2 separate regions of the Homo sapiens genome follow, and region 2 is linked to region 1. Evidence: fine-mapped expression QTL. Tissue or cell type: blood mononuclear cells. Region 1 holds a variant in brackets; the other region holds the start of a gene. All regions are shown on one strand. Distances are between the middles of the regions.

What was found. PIP is the estimated chance that this variant, and not a neighbour inherited with it, causes the effect.
Region 2: NEDD9 starts here. The variant in region 1 is fine-mapped to the expression of NEDD9 in blood mononuclear cells (TOPMed, PIP 0.94).

What each region holds. Positions count from the first base shown.
Region 1 is chr6:11,175,328-11,178,089 of GRCh38, forward strand. No RefSeq gene overlaps it. Among named protein-coding and RNA genes, the nearest start is that of NEDD9, 56 kb to the right of the region's middle. The variant C/A (reference allele first, on the strand shown) is at 1,144.
Region 2 is chr6:11,231,728-11,234,227 of GRCh38, forward strand. It overlaps NEDD9 (neural precursor cell expressed, developmentally down-regulated 9), which reads right to left and starts at 941. Exons shown (of 7, transcript NM_006403.4): 1 at 777-941. The coding sequence starts at 788. RefSeq lists silencers at 449-498, 979-1,028.

The DNA.
Region 1 (2,762 bases):
TTGAGCCTGGGAGGTGGAGGTTGCAGTGAGCCAAGATCACACCACTGCACTCCAGCCTGGGTGACAGAGCTTTTGTCTCAAAATAAATAAATAAATAAATAAATAAATAAATAATCTTTCAATCATTTAATGTGGCCTTGAAGGCCTTGCATGGCCAGGTACCTGCCACTTCTTCAGCCTCATTTCTCACCATTCTCCCACTTCTCTGCTGTGCGCCAGGCACACTGGACTCTTCCTGGTCCTAGAACACAGCAGGATCCTGGGGTTCTCAGGGCCTTTGTCCTTACTCCTACTTCTGCTTGGAATGTCCTTTCCCAGCTTTGCTTAGATAAAGTCCATTCACTCATCAGATCTCACATCAAACATCTTTTCCAGAAGAAAGCCATCCCTGCTCCCCACACTACTTTAGGATGCGCCAATATTCCCTCTTATGGAGCTATGTATCTTGACTTCATAGTGTTTCATAGAGTTGCGCTTTTCTTTTCTTTTTTGACAAAACCAACATTTTTTTTTCACTCACCAGATTGGAAGTTTCATAAAGCAAGGGATGTATTAAATTTTTATTGCTTCCCTTGTACCCTCAGTGCCAGGTACATAATAGGTGTTCAATAAATATTTGCAGAACAAATGAATGATTGAAGTTGTATTGATAGTAGTGCAAACTTGGAGGAGAGGCTAATAAAGCCTGTCCAAAATATACCACCCACCAGGTGTGTATAACTTACTCTCTGCCTTTCCTGACTTGTATTTTGAATGTCAGAGATGAAGGTGAATAACAATGAGTAAATAGGATGAAAGAACAGAAAAATCAAAGATACTCAGGAATGACTGAGTGGCCCAGAGAGGCTGTTCAGGAGAATTCATGAAAGGATATAGTAGGAAATGAGAGTGAAAGAGCCATTTGGGGTTAGATCATGATGGGCCTTAAAAGCCACATCATATACTTTAAAGTGTTAGACTTTAGAGAAAGAATAATAGCACATAAGTGATGCTGTACTAGAAACAAGCTGTGGTCTCACTATATTTACTGTAAAGATGATATGTCATGATGCTGTATGATTTACTGTGTTATATAACCCGTTATGAAGACCCTGGTGAGAAATCTCTCTGAGGTCCCAGTATGGGAAACAGTGGGCTTGATTT[C/A]ATTTTATGGATACTTATAAATCATATAACGGATTTCATTTTCCTTCCTTCCTTCCTTCTTTCTTTCTTTTTCTTTTTCTTTTTTGAGATGGAGCCTTGCTTAGTCGCCCAGGCTGGAGTGCAGTGGCGTGATCTTGGCTTACTACAACCTCCGCCTCCCAGGTTCAAGCAATTCTCCTGCCTCAGCCTCCCGAGAGTAGCTGGGATTACAGGCTCCCACCACCACGCCCAGCTAATTTTTGTATTTTTTAGTAGAGATGGGGTTTCACCATGTTGGCCAGTCTGGTCGTGAACTCCTGACCTCAGGTGATCTGCCCACCTTGGCCTCCCAAAGTGTTGGGATTACAGGCGTGAGCCACCGCACCCGGCCGGATCTCATTTTCTTTATCTCATGGGCTGTCCAGAAAACTCAAGGCCAAAGTTCACAGGCCTTTGCAACATGCATTTTGTGTATGAACTATGTTAACAGCTACGTCTTATTTTTTTTACCTTTATTTTCTTTTTATTCAGTTGTCTTCTTCTAAAACGAAAATATTGTATGCACCTTAGTCTTTGTGGGGAGAAAGAGACTAGTTATATGAATTAATAAATAATGTGAGTATTTTACTATTAGGAAAATTAATTGCAAAGAGGACCATATTCAAAATCACATACAAATGTCATAATATTTAAAATTGCACGCGAATATCTTTTGTCCATGCCTCTTACCTGATTTGGGGTAAAGCTACCAGCTAAACCCTGCTCAGGTCATGACTGTAATGCAATTACCCAGAGAATATCCTTTGTACACTTTTCTACCTGCAGCTCCCAGAGTGCTTGTGTGGTATAGGGAAAGGGCTACTTCCATTTTCCAGCCTTGAAACTTGGGCCAAGTTGTTTAATTCCCTTCTAGCTTCAGCCTCCTCCTCTGTAAAGTGAAAATAAGAACTATCTATAAGAGGTTTGCTATGAGGGCAAAGATAATGTGCTTGATGTAGTGTCTGCTAACTCAAACTAGACACCAATAAATGGTGGCGATTGATGTCATTTATACACTAGCACATCTATTGATCTTATGCCTTAACATAGCCAGGGTTTAACCACTTAAATCATATTTTTTCAAAGTATGTATTTGTCCTTATCATTCTTGCCACCTTCAAAAGCCTTTCCATGCATCAAGCACCTCTTCTTAGATTAAATTTCTAGATGGGCCAGACAATGTGTCTCTGACTCTATTTATCTTCCCATTTGTATGTATTTTATTTTTCTTTCACTTTTTTGGTTCTCTTCTGAGAGATATTTTTATTTTAAAATTCTTCATATAAAATTGGGCTTTCCAAAGCATTTCTACAAAAAAATCCTGGTCCCAAGGAGTTGATGATTTGGGAAAGCTCATCCAAATTAATTATTGGTTTGTTTCCTCCATGTTTATTCTAAGACAAATATTCAGATAATCAGAAATGAATGGGGGAAATAATAAAGTATCTTCACATACTTATTTAGAAGCTTTGTACAGATTCAGGGTGAGTATGGGTGCTAAAGATCAGAACAGGTGCTGCCCCGTAGCCTATTGGTTCTAAAAGACTGTTAAAGACAGAGGACTTGACCTTGATGAATGTAGTCGAGAACAATAATGATTC
Region 2 (2,500 bases), 56 kb after region 1:
ATACGGAGCAAGTCAAAAATCCTTTTGGCAAGAAAAATCCACAAACAATGGTGTAAAATGCATTGGAAAATAATGCTGCTGAAGTACTATGACTATGACACTCTGTAAGCTTTCAGGCACAATGAGCCAGCCTGAGCCTTCGCACTCTCACCCCATTCAAACTCCAATAAAAATGTTTTCAAGAAATGGCTCATACTTATTTATTCCTACATCCAATATAACATAAGGATGTCAAAATTTTCCATCCTCAGCTGTGTAATCTGGGCTTTTAATTTCTCCCACCAAAAGTGCATATGGCATACTCCTTCCGAGACCAAACGATTAAAGCAAAGTCTGGAAAACTTTGCACTAAGAGCCAGTCTGAGACAGACTATGCAGTCCTCATTCCTCTCATTACAGTTCCCCAGGGCAGTGGAAGCCAGGCCTGGGGAAGCCAAGGAGACTTGAGCCAATGCCTGCCGCGATTCAAGTCAGACACCCTCTGATCTCCAGTGGCTGCTGTGAAGCGGCTCCAAGTCTTAACTTCTCACCGAGGTATTTCCCCGGCAACTTTCAGAGCAGATGGACTCGGGTGTACTGTGAACCCCTGGAGTGGGTCTCAAAGACCGGGTCTCTGCTTGCTTGTCTGCTTGCATGTCAACCTCAGTGACCGAGACTCATCTTAGAACTCTCCGGGACACACAAGGGACTGACAGTAAGGAACACGCATACACAAGCACACACCCGCAGGCACAGCTTTCAGCTTGCAAGGTAACCTGTAAAAGGCACTCTCTTACCTTATACTTCATTTCGGCAGCGGTGGGTTGAGCCGTTTTCCTACACTAGTTAAGACAGCATTAAGCACTGCGGTGCCCGCCCCTCCATTGAGTGCAGCGCTAGATGAAAGCGAGAAGGTCCCGGGCAGAGCCGCTTGTCAGTCGCAGCGCCTCCCTCAAGTCTCTGAGCTCACTGTTGTGACTGAGGCAGGCTGATCGCGGACCTCATTTGCATGCCGCCCCGCCATTGGCTAGTGGGACAAGGTAATGCTCAGGCCCTGCCCACCCCTAATTCTGAAAAACTGACAAAGAACTTGTAATGTGATCGCTTCTTTTTGCTTTATCAGACGGTGGAAAATAAAACAGAAAGTGGGGAACCGTCCTGAACCTTACTCTGTCCTCCCGCCCCCGCCAAAAAAGAAGACAGAAAGAGAAAGAACAGGAAAAGGAGATACATTCTTTTTAAGATTAACCCAAATTTTAAAGAAACTGAATTCACAAAAGCAGTCTGACAGTCGCGCTTCCTGTGACCTAGCAACTCCTTCATAAACCCATTTCGTTTCAAAGCCATTCACCTCACAATCTCTACATGAAACGAACTCCGGGAACAAAAGGTTTTCTGTCTCCGGGCCCCTTTTTACTAACCACCCCTGCTGATACCTCTCTCTCTCTCTGTCCCTTTTTCTTTCCCCCTCCTCCCGCCTACTTTTTGTGTGTGTGTGACTGTTTGCTTTTTTTGTTCTTTTCAACGTTCAAAGTACTTTGCGATGTCAGTCTGCAAGGAGCTGGAAGACAATTCTCCCTTAGTGAAAAGGAACCCTCTAGCACACGCACCAGCGTTTTCCTGGACAGCTTCTCACCAGGGCCTCAGAGTTGCGGGTCACACATATTGAGCGACCTTCAGTGGCTTTGCTGAGGATAAAGGTTAGATGTGACCTCTCGGATGGGGTTGGCCAGTGCACGCCCTATACATCATCACCGTCCACTGAGTTCTGTGTTCTTTGACGGCTGGCATTTCTAGCTCCAGCTTTGAACACTGCAGTGTTTTTCCTTCTGACCTCTGTCCTGAGGATGACCCATTAACCCACCAACACTTATTATCCAGGAGAACGAAAATGCCCACTGTTTGATGAGCCTGGTTAAAAAGACCAGTCTCTCTCCAGCGAAGCACAGAACATAATTTCTATAAAGGTTCCATTTTAGGATTTCTATAGAGAAAGAGAATCACCCAGAAAACAGAAATGGTCACCTTCTGCAACTCTTCTCACGGACAGAGCAGTGAGGCGAAAAATTCCTTTTTCCCGGGCAAGACTGAGACTCGGTGAATCCAGACAATAGCTGTCCCTGAGTGGGATGCACTCCAACCAGACTACATGACTTGGATGGAAAAATCAGCCCTTATTTTTTTTTTTCCTGACCAAGTTGGATCAGAATCTGATTCCCTTCGCGTCTAACACACAAATTCCCAATGGATGAAAACTCTACTTTTATGATCTAAGCAAAAGGAATGAGAGAACAGCTGTCCTACAAAAGTGGTTTCCAGATACAGGGTTGGCAGGTTAGTTTGCAGTTCAGTGTGGCACTGATTCCAGGGACATGACCCCCCAGGCCATCCTAATGAGGTTGACATACCTGTTCCAGCCTGTATTAGGCCTTGCTTCTCCTCATTTGTCCTTAGAGCAAAAATAAGCCTGAGTGATTGTGCAAGGCCTTTCTGAACACAAATTAAGCACGCAGCATATTGC